Linked DNA regions of Homo sapiens. The protein of the gene in region 2 purifies or fractionates together with the protein of the main gene of each other region. This does not show direct contact. Each region holds a gene or a part of one and is shown on either strand. Other genes may lie near its edges. The genes, in order: CLPB and ADCK2.

Region 1 (7,271 bases), on a different chromosome or scaffold from region 2:
TATTTTCCTGTAGTTCCTGGAATATGTGATACAAAGAACAATGTATAGCCAAACAATAGCTTGTTATTTTAATGTAAATTCTTGGTAAACAACTTGGAAAGTGCCTCTTCTGCGTGGTGGCTCAGGCCTGTAATCCCAGCACACTTTGGGAGGCCGAGGTGGGCAGATCACTTGAGGTCAGGGGTTCGAGATCAGTCTAGCCAACATGGTGAAACCCCATTTCTACTTAAAAAAAAAACAAAAATACCCTGGGCGTGGTGGCTCACGCCTGTAATCCCAGCACTTTGGGAGGCCGAGGCGGGCGGATCACGAGGTCAGACCATCCTGGCTAACATGGTGAAACCCTGTCTCTTTGTAAAATACAAAAAATTAGCCGGGCGCGTTGGCGGGCACCTGTAGTCCCAGCTACTCGGGAGGCTGAGGCAGGAGAATGGCATGAACCCGGGTGGCGGAGTTTGCAGTGAGCCGAGATCGCACCACCGCACTCCAACCTGGGGGACAGAATGAGACTCCGTCTCAAAAAAAACAAAACAAAACAAAAAAAAACACAAAAAAAAACTTAGCCAGGTGTGGTGGCATGCACCTCTAATTCCAGCTACTCGGGAAGCTGACGTATGAATATCACTTGAACTCAAGAGGCGCAGGTTGCAGTGAGCCGAGATCGTGCCACTGCACTCCAGCTTGGGTGACGGACTGAGATTCTGTCTCAAAAACAACAAAAAAGTGTCTCTTGTTTTTCCCTTTAAAAACACACTTGCAACTGTTGCTAATCTGGAGCATATATTTATGGCAACTTGAATCTAGACTCTTGGGTTGCAGTCCTCAAACTTGGCCCCAGTAAACTCTTTCTACTAATTTTACAGTTGCATAATTAGTTATCTGACTCCTAGTTAGACTGTGCCAAGAGGGCAGGGACTGTGCCAATCTTGTTCGTTACTGTTAACTGCCACATTCAGCCCAATGCCTAGCTCTGAATATGCACTCGTAAGTATTGGCTGAATGAATTAATCATTTTGTTATTAGTAATAATGACTCTGCCACTCTGTGGGGTTAGTTATTATCATCTTCATGTTAGTTGGAAGGTAGGTAATTTGTTCCTTGTTTCACTGGCTCTCAATGTTTGACTCATGTCCTTCTTCCTCACCAGAGGGCACACGAGCTCCTCTAGGGCAGGGACTGTTTCTCCTTCCTCATTTTGTTGCCACAAATTCAGCTCAGGGCTAGGCACAAAGCACAGGCTGGACAGATGGGCGACTGAGGGACAAACGGAGAGTCAATCAATGTTCTCCACGACCAGGTCGCTACCTGTCTCCAGTCCCTCCTGGCCTCAGACTGTGATCCAGCAACACCGAACAGCAAGTGACTTCCCCTCTGCATACCCCCCAGGCTGCTCCTTGCCTTATGCTACCACATATGCTGCCCTTTTTGCCTGGAATGGCTTCCCCTTCTATTTACAAAGTCCAACTGATATTTTAAGTCTATGATCAGGTGCCATTTCCTCTGGAAGTCTTTCTCAGATCCTCCAGGCTGTTTGTCCTCTGGTCTCCTGCAGCCCCTGTAGTTTCCTGTCTCACAGCACTGACCACCCTATTGCCACAGTTTACCCCGACTCTGTCATCATGGGCAGGAACCATGACTGCTTAAGTGTTCCCTGTGCCAAGCAGAGGACTCAGGATATGGCAGATGCTGTTTGTCAAATGAATAAATAAATCCTGGAGAAAAAGGGCAGGCAGTCTGAGGCCCAAGACTGATCTTGCCAGGCTTCCTTTATTAGAGACTGCTTGGGCTGATGAACAACTGAGGTAAGCACTCAGCAGAGGCCTAGCCCCCTGCTGGGAGAAGGGAGATGGGTAGGGGTGTTGTCTTTCACCCACTTTGTGCTGAAGGAAATGTGATCTCCACCGGGAGAACAGGAGGCCTCACTTTTCCCAGTCCCAGTCCTGACAACTCCTCACATGGCTTGGCCTGAGCCTGGACAGATGTGCCTCTAGTCTGCCTTGTGCCCTAGGTTTCGGGTGAGCAGTTCCTCAGGCTCAAGTTTGGGGTAAGCCCAGGAGCAGGACCACCTGCTCACACTGCTGACAGGTAGGAGGCCAGGCTTCCACTTCTGAGGAACCAGAGATGGATGAACTTAAGTGCCTCAGGGGAGAAGGGAGGAAATGGATGTCACACAGGAAGGGAGGGAGGGAGGGAGCGAGGGAGGGAGGAAAGAGAAGAGACCTGGCCTCCCTCTGATATAGCCAAGGGGAGTGTGAAAGCCTCTGGACTGCTTACTTCAGGTACACTGAAAAGTCAATAAAAAGCAAAGAAAGAGTCACAAAAAACAAGTAAGTGCCGCTGTGCTGTGGAACAGGGTAAAAGACGGTAGAGAACACAACCTTGTCCCTGCCCTTCAGGAGGTGCACAATCCAGCAGTTTCAGATGAAATATAGCCCACAGACTTCTTCATATAAAGAACAGTGTGGCAAGTGGCATTCAGCTCTACTTCTCCAACCTGACCTCCAGCTTCTCTTCCACAAAAGGAGCTCCCTCCTGTGACAAGCTGCCATGGTCCTTTCTAGATCACCCTCATACCCTCCCAGACCAGAAGGCAGGTGTAGGATCAGAGTGGGGGGAAGAGGCAAAGGAAGATGAGATCACACCCAGCTGGGAGGAATCCAAGAAGGCTCTGTAAGGAAAGCAGCACTAGAGCTTTGAAAGGTGTAAGCAGAGGATAATGAATACAGATGGCAGAGGGCCATCTGTGGAGGACCCACATCCAGGGCCCATGGACTGAAGATTCCAGGGTGTCCTTAAAGAGGAGGATCGAATACCTCCCCCTGGGAGCAGAAGAGCATTAGGCTGCTGCCCTTCACTATCCAGAACTTTCCCAAGACTCTGGGGCTAAGGACAGGAGCTGGGGGAGGTCAAGTAGAGGCAGACACAGTACAGAGCCCCAGAGAGGTCAAGTGGGGAAGAAGGGTAAAGCACGACATTATTTACGAGGTCTGAGTTTTGCTCTAAATACTGATATTATTGACCATATCAATCATATACACAGTGACCCAACCATGTGTAACCTACAGTCATGCGCTACACAATGATGTGTTTGTTAACGATAGACTGCATGTATGAGGTGGTCTTATAAGATTATAATGAAGCTGAAAAATTCCTATCCTCTTGTGACGTTGTAACTGTCTCAACATCATAGTGCAACAAATGACCTTTTCTGTATTTAGGTATGTCTAGATACATAAATACTTACCATTATGTTACAATTGCCTACAGTATTCAGGGCAATAACGTGCTATACAGATTCCTAGCCTAGGAGCAACAGGCTATACCATATAGATTAGGTGTGTGGTAGGCTATTACCATTTAGGTTTGGGTAAGTATACTCTATGATGTTCACACTGTGATGAAATTGCACTACTCAGAATGTGTCCCTATTGTTAAGCAAGGCATGACTGTATGTGTAAATTCAAAGAAATAAATGAGTATGGGATTCTGTCCTGCTATAGGCAGGTCTGTTGGGCAGAGCTAAGAGCCCAGGACATTGAAGAAGAAATAAAGAGCAGCATGAACCACCTGTACAGAGTCTAGGGTACAGAAAGGCTGAATAAGGACCTACTGTAGGAATTCCAGAAAGTTTCCTTCTAGCAAGGATGGTCAGGCTCCCTTTACCCCCACTGCCCCCAGACCTGGCTCTGTTCGCAGGAAGAACTATAACTGGTGGGTTACATGTCTGTTTCCTTGAGACCAGGGCCTGGGTCACCATCCCCATCCCCCATCTGCAGTGCCCAGCAGAGGCCCACTCACTCTTTCATAATCAAGAGCTGCTTTGGGTGAGGGGGAGGGAAGGATGTCCTCATTCAGGCCCTCATCATCTTGAATCTGTCTTTACTGAAACAGAAACAGCCTCTTAACAGATCGGCCCTCAGCCTTTTCCCAATGCAGTCCATCCTTCACTCCTCTGCAAGTCAGCCTTAACTGGGTCATTCCCCTGCTCAAAAACTTCCCACGTCTCCCCACTGTGTACAGAGTAAGAGTTCAAAACTCCTCACCCTGGGCATGGCAGGCCTTGCACATTCCAGCTTCTCTCAGACAACCTTCCCTCTTTTCTGACACCCTGTACAAATCCCACCTCAGGAGCATCAACATATTCCGCAGGCCCAGCAGCCAGCCAGCATCTGCTTCCCGCCTTTGCTTAGCTTGCTCCTGGCTCTGTGGTCTTGTATGAGATGGGGGCTGAGGGCAGGTCTGTGCCTCGCTCATCTCTGATGTCCTCACATGGAGTGAAGGGAGATTCTGACAGGGTCATCCTGACCAAGTGAGGTGGGACAAGAGGAGGCAGGAGAAAAGCAGGCTAGAGCCTGGGGACACACATGAAAAGCCCCCCCAGACACTATCCACACGAGAATGAATGTTCAGAAAAATTGTCTGAATCACACATACACCGTTAAGTTCAATTACTTTCTGTATTTTTGGGATGGGTGTTTAATTGCTATTAGAAAAACATGTATTTGAAAGAACTAAATAATCAATGCCTGGCAGCTCAATGGAATATGGTAGTGGCATCCCCTGGGGGATGGAAGAGTGGATTCCCAACATTGCTGCTCTGCAAATGCCCTGCCAAAAGGGGAAAGTCGCAGCCCGGCAGCCCTTCGCAGTAGCCAACAGGTGATTCCAGGGTCAGCAAGGGTCAGTTTCCATACCCGTACTCCTGTACTGCAGCAGAATGAAGCAAAGCACATCTGTTTCTGGAGGAATGAAGATGCCACACACAGCCTGCAGTTATGAATGGCTCTTATAACAACAGGATGACATCTGTGCTTGGTTTTTAAGATGCATCATCGCATGTTTATTAAACTATTGCTCCAACATATTTATTTGGCTACAAAACAACTCCCAGCCCATATTTCCAAAAGTGGTTTATTAAAAACTAAGGCTTGAACATTAATACCCAAAAGCACCCTTGAGAATCAATAATAATGCTGCAGATAAAATGAAAGGGAATCAAAGCAGTAAGTCTTGGTGGGGTGGGCTGCTTTTCAACACTTTCTTGTATGTTCAGGAAGCTAAGGTGGGGAAGAACACCAAGGGCCTGTGGCACTGGGTGTGGAAATAGCCACCCCAACACCTGACTTCCTGTCTAACATGCAGACATGATGGCAAGGAAGGGGGGTGTCCTATGGCCACCTAGCTCTATATAAATGGCCAAGAGAGGCCAAGGTTAGGCCCAGTGGGGGGCATAGTTTCAACAAGAATAAGACCTCTGCCCTTAACCAACAGCCCTGTAACTGATGCCCCATGCTGGCCCCAGTCTGAGCATCCATCCTGGACACAGACTCTGCCCTATACCTGGCACTGGGCTGAGCCGAGTTGAATCTTGCCCTTGCCAAATAATAAGCCTCAAATTCAACCTGCCAGTGGTCACTGGAGACTAGCTGAGCCAGTGAAGCTACAGAAATGCAGTCTGTCCCCGGGCAAAGCCAGGTATGGGCCCCTGGCCCTGCAGGCAGGCATTTCTAGCCCCAGACCTTCTGGCAGATGGTCTCTTCCAGCTCTGTCCCAAATCCCCAAGCCTTTCCATAGATGCCGACCTGCAACCTGTCCAGGCAGCAAGCAGTAATACATGGCCATTCCCAAAGAAATGAGCACAAATCAGAAGATTCAGAGAAGAACCCAAAGGATATGGGGGCTGAAGGGAGTCCAAACCAACCCAGTGAAGAACAAAATAGCTGAAGGATCCAGGGATGTTTGGGAGCTGACTCCCTACCGAAAATATCCAAGGGGTGATCTGGGTAAAGGAAGCCCAGGTGACTCTGTGACTACAGAGATGTCACAGGGGACAGTTCCCAGCTTAGGGTAAGGATTTCCTCCAAAGCAAAGTCATCACACGAGAAGAGGCTCGCCCTGCTCAGCCTCTCCTGTAGGGGAGAGCAAGGCCTGGGGTTCAACTCACCTGCTGACTTCTTGCATATTGTTGGCACGGGCAGCTTCCAACAGGGCTGCATCTGAAGAGAAAGGGGGCACTGGTCAGATCCGCGGCCAGGACATACCCATCTCAGGACTGCGTGGAGGGCCCACTAAGACAGTGGCAGTACTTTAGAAACGTGGACTTTGACAAGCAAACTGATGTCACAATATATAATGAGAAACGAATCATTCCCTCCCCACATGGTGTCCACTGTTAACAACCTGACTTCCACACCTTTCTACTACAGAGCCCAAACTCTTCACTCCTCTCATCATAGAGGGAATGCAGGTCAACTGCTAGCACCACGTCTTGCCTATGGTAAATAATGTGCTCTTCATAATCTATGAAGCTCTGCATATGCTTTATGTTCCTATAAGAGTTATTACTAAAGATTCCCTGATCTTGTCCACTTTCTCCCTCAACTCCAGTTCTTCAACCCAGTTCTGAATCTTGATGTCAAGTCATAAACCCAAAAGGAAAGGTAGAATGGAGAGGAGCAAGCAGGGTGTAGGCCTCTCTGAGGATGGAGAGGTCTCAACTAGGAGTCTTTGAGATCTAGCTCCATTCCACTCCCACTACTCACCACGTGACCATGACAGCTCCTCTCTCTCTCAACCACAGCTTTCCTGACTGTAAAACATAGACAAAACTCCTTGCCCTGCCAGCTTCACAAGGATGTCAAGGAGATGAAATGACAGTTGAGACGTCTGCAAACTCCCCAGTGCTGAGCCCAGGGAAGGGAGACCCAAAGCAGAGGAGACACTAAGCCTAGGAGAAAAGCAACGCTAGCTAAGTGCGTCTGGCCTGGTCTGGGCAGCCTGCAGGCTGTTGCCACCACCTTGTGGCCATAAAGAAAATTGGACTGACTCAGAAAAACTCAAAAGTCAACAGGAGAGGCACAATCTTTTCAAATAGCTCAATACCAGGTACATGGAGCCCTCTGTGCCCAGCCTGGTTCTGAGCTACACTGCTGGGCAGTGGGCGGATTCATAGCCAGCCCTGACTCAGGGAACTCTCAGTCCAGCCAAAAGACTCACTCATGAGCAAATGCACTGGAGTAGAGTGAAAGAGCAGGATCTGGAGACAGTCAGACCTGGGGTCTAGCCCAGCTCTGTCGCTTATTTGCTGTATAACCTAGCCCACCTATCTAACCTCCTGAGCCTTAGTTTCCTTATCTGTACAATACACCTTATCATGCATATGAAAGCCAGTCCTGTGGTTCAGACATTGATGCCTCCTGGCCTAGATTCCAGGGACAGGTCCTTTCTACTTACCTTACCGGATGTACCTAAAGCACATACCCAAGCATGGC
Region 2 (7,271 bases):
TTTTAGCTCACTACAACCTCCATCTCCTGGGCTCAGGTGATCCCACCTCAGCCTCCCAGGTAGCTGGGACTAAAGGCATGCTGCCACCAAACGTGGCCAATTTTTGTATTTTTTTTTTTTTTTTTTTGTAGTGACAGGGTTTTGGCATCTTGCTCAGGCTGGTCTCAAACCCCTGGGCTCAAGCAATCTCCCCGCCTCAGCCTCCTGAAGTGCTGGGATTATAGGTGTGAGCCACTGCACCCAGCCAAAACTCTCCTATGTTTTAATCTGGGCACTGGGATGCTTTTTAAAAATTCACTAAGCATCATTTAAGATCTGAGCACTTTATATTTAAATATTATTGGAATTCAATTTTTTAAAGTTAAGGGCAAAAATCTTCAAAATGAACTTATCTGCCCTTGGATTAAAGTCCAAACTCTTTCACAGATTTACTAGACCCTTTGTGGTCAGGCCCCTCTCACCTCCTCAGCCTCCTCTCACCTCCTCAGCCTCAGCAATCACTGCCCCCTCCTTCAAACTCTCTTCCAAGCCATACTAAGTGCTTTCGTCTCTCCAAGAGCACCATGCAGTAGCTCACCCCAGGCCTCAGCAAAGGCTATTCTCTCTAGACAACTCCCTGCCACCTGTCCTTATGTAGTGACACCTAGACCTTCACACTGCAGCTGAGATGGAGCCACTTCCTGAGTGAATCCCTGGGTTAGCACAGTCTCCTCCGAAATGACCTTTTGGTACCCCGTACCTATCCCTATAAATCATTTACTTAGTCGTCACCTATCTTCCCAAGGAATAGTATGTCACGAGCATTGTAATTGTGTCTGTTTTGCTCACTGCTGTAACCCCAGCCCTTAATTCAGTGCCTGGCACCTAGCAGGTGCTCAATAAACATTTGCTGAACAAATGAGCAAAGCAGCATTTAAAATAAGATATTGTCTCAGCTGTTTGCTAAACTACAGGCAATGCTGGCAGAACTGGGTCATGGTCACCCTTCTTCTCACAGCACACAGAGCATGAGCCACTGACAAAGCACTTAAGAGGCCGGGCATGGTGGTTCATGCCTGTAATCCCAACACTTTGGGAGGCCAAGGTGGGAGGATCGCTTGATCCCAGGAGTTCAAGACTGCCCTGGACAACATAGTAAGTCCCTACAAAACAATTTTTTAAATTAGCCAGGCTTGGTGGCTCATGTTTGTAGTCCCAGCTACTCAGGAGGCTGAGGAGTGAGGAGGCAGGATCACTTGAGCCCAAGAGGTTGAGGCTGTAGTTCATGGAGATTTTGCCACTGCACTCCAACCTCGGCAACAGAGTGAGACCCTATCTTAAAAAAGGAAAAAAAAGGCCGGGTGTGGTGGTTCACACCTGTAATCCCAGCACTTTGGGAGGCCAAGGCGGGTGGATCATGAGGTCAGGAGATCGACACCATCCTGGCTAACATGATGAAACCCCATCTCTACTTAAAAAAATACAAAAAATTAGCCAGGCGTGGTGGCGGGCGCCTGTAGTCCCAGCTACTTGGGAGGCTGAGGCAGGAGAATGGCGTGAACCCAGGAGGCAGAGCTTGCAGTGAGCCGAGATCACGCCACCGCACTCCAGCCTGGGCGACAGAGCAAGACTCCATCTCAAAAAAAAAAAAATAAAAGAGCTTCACAGACACCATGGCCATTTATGGTAGCCTCCACTCTTTCTAGACCAGACTTTCTCAACCTGGCGGCTTGCTGCTTCGCTCTCCTTCCCACCCAGATAGCCAGAGTCCCAGCCCACTCCCCATCTGCAAGCTGACCACATGCTGGGCCTGAGCCCGCTCCAGCCATGAGCTCACCATCTTCAGGAGCATGTTGATCCCCAGCCGTGCAATCTTCCTTTTCAAGTCCACGGGAATTCCTGCCTGCTGGTAACTGGACACAGGCACACTCTCCTTCAGAAAGACCAGGGAGAGAACAGCTTAATCCCAGCCAGCCTGTGATGCTGGCTCCTCCTCCCACGTGGCACCACAGCGCTGTCTTCTCACTTATTGGGAAGTAACCCAAAGAGTATTTCCTTTCCTAGAACCCATCTGTCATTCAGCCATGTGCAGTGGCTCACACCTGTAATCCTAGCACCTTGGGAGGATTGCTTGAGCCCAGGGGTTCAAGACCAGCCTGGACAACATGAGGGAGAACCACCTCAACTCGGAAAGTCAAGGCTTCAGTGAGCTGAGATTGCGCCACTGCACTCTAGCCTGAGTGACAGAGACTCTGTCTCAAACAAAACAAAACAAAAATCTGTCATCCACACATTGATTTGAACTTATTTACATTCCCTTCTATAACAGCTATCAGAAGGATGACAAGTCACATAGGTTTATTGAAAAGGAAACCTATCAACTCTGCTACTGAAGATAAGAGATGTGATGTCCTGAAAAGATAGGGGTGGGCACCAGAGAGCTGGTTTCTGGGCAAGAATCAGCCAATAGGGGTCTGGGCAACGTAAGGAGACCCCCATCTCTACAAAAAAAAAAAAAAATTACCCAGGTGTGGTGGCTAACACGTATAATCCTAGCACTTTTGGAAACCAAAGCAGGAGGATCACTTGAACTTGGGAGTTTGAGACCAGCCTGGGCAACAGGGAGAAACCCAGGCTCTACAGAAAAATACAAAAATTAGTCGGACATGGGGATGGTGGCTCGTGCCTATGGTCCCAGCTACTTGGGAGGCTGAGGTGGAATGATCACTTGAGCCCAGGAGGTGGAGGCTGCAGTGAGCCGAGATCATGCCACTGTACCACAGCCTGGGCAACAGAGCAAGACCTTGTCTCAAAAAAAAAAAAATTGTCAAAACAACCCATGGAGATAGATCTTGTTATCCCTAATTAACAAATAAAAGAACCAAAGCCCAGAGAGGTTAAGCAACTTGCTCAAGTTCACACAGCTAGAAACACTGTGTGGTTCATGTCACATTCATGAGATTCCCTGAATCTCATATCACCATCTGTAAAGAGGAGGCTGGGCTGGGTGCAGTGGCTCATGCCTGTAATCCCAGCACTTTGGGAGGCCAAGGCAGGCAGATCACTTGAGGTCAGGAGTTCCAGACCAGCCTGGCCAACACGGCAAAACTCCATCTCTACTAAAAAATACAAAAATTAGCCAGGTGTGGTGGCACACACCTGTAATCGCAGCTACTTGGGAGGCTGAGGCACGAGAATCACTTGAACCTGGAAGGCGGAGGTGGCAGTGAGCTGAGATCATGCCACTGCACTCCAGCCTGGGCAACAGAGTGAGACTCTATCTCAAAAAAAAAAAAAAAAAAAAAAAAAAAAGAGAGAGAAGGCTGAACTAGAGTAGAGGATAGCTAGGGCAAGTGAGATGACACAAGGTTGTTCAGCACTTTCTCTGTGCCCAACTCCTTGTTTTGCATTCAGTGTGTCATTTACTCCTGAGACAATCCTCTAAGGCAGGTCACCAACTAATAAAATGGCAGAGCAGATTTTCAAATCTAGGGGATCGGGCCACACCCAGTGTTCTCAGCTACCTCACTCCAACACTGCCTCCCGCCGAGGCCAACACATCCCAGCTCCTCACAGTTTTACAGACACAAATCCCATCCTCTCTCCAGACTGAAGCCTTTCTGTGGGCTGGAGACGGGCCCACTGCGAGTGGCAAGTGAAAGGTATGGCCAGGCAAAGCCATCACTCTTACTTCATACGTTTCCACCAAGACTTCTCTGGTGACAAAGGGGCGCAGAGGGGTGGGGAACTTGACGGCTTTCACATTCCGGAAGTTGACCTGGAAGTGTTCTAGATTCTGAGCTTCGTAACGCAGGTCAATCTACAGAGAAATGGACAGAAAGGATGAGGGCTAGTCTGGGTACAGGCACAGTGACATCTGCAATGCCAAGGAGCTAGCAAGTCATGAGATCCACCCCACCTTCCCCACCAGCTTGCCCCGCAGAACTTGCCCAGAAACTCAGGAGGCGACATCCGTGGGCTACAGCCTGCCCCAGCAATCCCAGATCTCTGTGTGAACTCCTGGAGGCTGCAGACGGCAGGTGCCCTGGTGGGCTTTGGGCTGCACTGCTTCTCTGCTACTCTCGCCCTTGCCACCCGCCTGCCTCACACCAGCCCATGAGTCCCTTCCCCGTCTCCCTGGGGTCTGGCTTCTCCAGGCCAGCCCCCAGCCCTCTCTTTCCATTAGGGCCAGCGTGCTGTGGGCGCTTCCACACAGGGCTACCCCTTCATCTCGCGGCAGCTCTCCACCCACCGCATCGACACTGCCACTGCTACTCTCCCCAACCACCACTCACCAGACCCAAAGGACCACTTCCAGGTTTATCATCAACCTCTGTGGGCATCCAGGGCTGGTGCCGCTGCTGACCTGTCTCTCCGTGATGGCTCTTCCCCCGGCACCTGCCCTTCACTCTCCTGGCACCCCTGCTGCCTCTCGCTGTCCTGTCTTGGCTGGGTCTCCTGTGCCCCCAGGAGCTGATGTCCTTTCTCCTGACCGAAGTGAGCGTGTGTGTCCCCTTGACAGCCACCAAGCCCTCAGCCGGCGCCTCCTCTGACAGCACCTTGATCCCCAGGTCAGACCTCAATGCCAGTCTCCAGAGTGATATATCCAATGACACCTGGATGTGGCCCGGTGGGAGCCCAGAGACCCTGAAGCTCTGTGCCTAAATGGAATTTCCCTTCACCATCCCCACGCACTCAGTCACCTTTGAGTCCCCAGATCATGCCTTCTCTCTTCCCCTCCGTGCACAGCAATGGCCCAATGCCATCAAGTTTGCAGCCTCACCGCCCTCAGATCAGTCCCTGTCCCCCAATGCCACTCCCAAGGCGCATGCCCTCAGGTCCAGTCACCTGAGCACAAACAGAGGTGCCTCGAGTGTGCTCCTTGACCCATCCTTCCTCTCCAATCCATTACCTGCATGGTGAAGTCTGCACTCCTTAGAATGGCATCCAGGTGGGTCATGATTTGGCCCCTACTTCTCTGTCCAGGTCCATCTCTCATGGCACCTTCCCCTGCCTTTTACCACCCAAGACCTGGCCTCACCCAACTCCATATAGTGCTCGACATCCCAGAGTGGCTAACACCCCCGGCTCTCCTCTGGCTTCTTTACTGCCTCGAATTGGAATGTTATTCCCCCACTTGGTCCAACTGCAAACACCAGTCACCTTTCAATACTCAGCTCAAGCTAAGGACACCAACCAAGTCCTCCTCTGAGCCCTGATGAACCATGCTGAGGTTCAGCCAGGCTCAGGTTCATTGCTTCCAGGGCCTCCCTCAGATACCAGATGGCTCAGTCCCTGACATAAAATTGCACAGTATTTGCATATAACCTATGCATATCCTCCCATATACTTTAAATCAGCTCTAGATTAGTTATAATACCTAATACAATCTAAACGCTCTGTAAATCATTGTTAAACTGCATTGTTAAGGGAATAATGCAAGAAAAAAAAGTCTGTACATGTTCAATACAGATGCAACTATCACAGACCTAACTACATTTTTTATTGAATCCGGGGATACAGGACTCATGGACAGAGGGCTGACTGTCTTTCTTTTTTTTTTTTTTTAGATGGAGTCTTGCTCTGTTGCCCAGCCTGGAGTGCAAAAGCATGATCTTGGCTCATTGCAACCTCCGCCTCCTGGGTTCAAGCGATTCTCCTGCCTCAGCCTCTCGAGTAGCTGGGATTACAAGCGTGTGCCACCATGCCCGGCTAATTTTTGTATTTTTAGTAGAGACAGTGTTTCGCCATGTTGGCCAGGCTGGTCTTGAACTCCTGACCTCAAGTGATCCACCTGACGCCGCCTCCCAAAGTGCTAGGACTACAGGTGTGAGCCACGGCACCTGGCCCTGACTGTCTTTCTTAGGGATAGGAAAGCTCACTTGTTTTCTTTGCTTACTAGCGTCTAACAGAGTTTTTTGTTTGTTTGTTTGTTTGTTTGTTTGTTTGTTTGAGATGGGATCTCACTCTGTCACCCAGGCTGGAGTGCGGTGGTGTGATCATGGTTCACTGTAAACTCTGCCTCCCAGATTCAAGCGATTCTCCCACCTCAGCCTCCTGAGTAGCTGGGACTACAGGTGAGCACCACCACGCCTAGGTAATTTTTTGTATTTTTGGTAGAGATGAGGTTTCACCATGTTGCCCAAACTGATCTCAAACTCCTAACCTCAAGCAATCCACCCACTTCAGCCTCCCAAAGTCCTTGGATTACAGGCATGAGCCACCGCACCCAGCCCTAACAGAGTTTTTAGTCACTGTTACATAAACTTATAAATGAATGGAGAGACACTCACACACTATACCCAGACCCACAACTCTAAGGCTTCCAGCCTAGGAACATGATGGGACTACTGAGAGACGGACACAGGCTTAGTAGGAAGAGCTGATTTTTAAGACAAATGGGGTGTGATTCAGAGATGTGAGTTTGAAGTGATGGAACCACATGATGTCTGTCAGACTTCCGCAAGGGGAACTGAAACTCAGATGAGTGGCAGGACTGAGAGGAATTAATGCAGAGATGGTTGTTGGAATCGATGCTATTTTCTCTGTTTTAATTTGCTTTTATTATCAAATTACATTGCTCTGTAGCTATGAATGTTTGTGTCCCCCCAAAATTCCTTTGTTGAAATGCTAAGCCCTAAGGTGATGGTATTAGGAGATGGGGCCTTTAGGAGGTGATTAGGTCATGAGAGCAGAGCCTGCATGAATGAATCAGCGCCTTTACACAAGAGACCCAAGACAGACCCCTTACCCCTTCTACCATGTGATGACACAGAAGGTGCCAATTATGAACCAGAAAGTGGGGCCTCACCAGACATCGAATCTGCCGATGCCTTGATCTGGAATTTTCAGCCTCCAGAACCTCGAGAAATACATTTCTGTTGTATGTAAGCTACTTAGTTTATGGGATTCTGTCCGAACAGACTAAGAGACTTTCTAAACATTGGAATGAATCCCTAGGACTTAAAATCTTAAATCAGAGCCTCCAAACAAATACTCGGCAGGTTGCTTCTGAAAACCTCCCAATTCCTGCACTACCCAACAAGGAGCCAACAGGTACCTAAGTGGAGCCCCGACCACCCCAGTGTGTTTGCTAAGTCTGTATCCTTATACAAAGGTCCCAAGGGCCCTGAGCATGAAGGAGGTCCTTGTTGACTCAATTGCCCTGGAATCAAAGCAGAACAAAGGCACAGTATGTGACTTTGCTAATTATTTTCTCACTCTGGAGTCATTGATTATGGCAGAAATAATGCTAGATGTTCTCCACCAGAATCATTTCCTTGTCACAAAGG

Evidence for each region.
Region 1: the proteins of ADCK2 (region 2) and CLPB purify together in Homo sapiens (affinity purification with mass spectrometry; 2 studies listed by BioGRID and IntAct, with this or other methods). This does not show direct contact.

Annotation. Positions count from the first base shown.
Region 1 is NC_000011.10:72,424,368-72,431,638, forward strand, and holds part of CLPB (mitochondrial disaggregase), read right to left. Parts: intron 5,997-7,271; coding exon 5,945-5,996; intron 1-5,944. UniProt on the Homo sapiens protein: Functions as a regulatory ATPase and participates in secretion/protein trafficking process. Has ATP-dependent protein disaggregase activity and is required to maintain the solubility of key mitochondrial proteins.
Region 2 is NC_000007.14:140,675,683-140,682,953, reverse strand, and holds part of ADCK2 (uncharacterized aarF domain-containing protein kinase 2), read right to left. Parts: intron 3,800-7,271; coding exon 3,671-3,799; intron 1,913-3,670; coding exon 1,817-1,912; intron 1-1,816. UniProt on the Homo sapiens protein: The function of this protein is not yet clear. It is not known if it has protein kinase activity and what type of substrate it would phosphorylate (Ser, Thr or Tyr).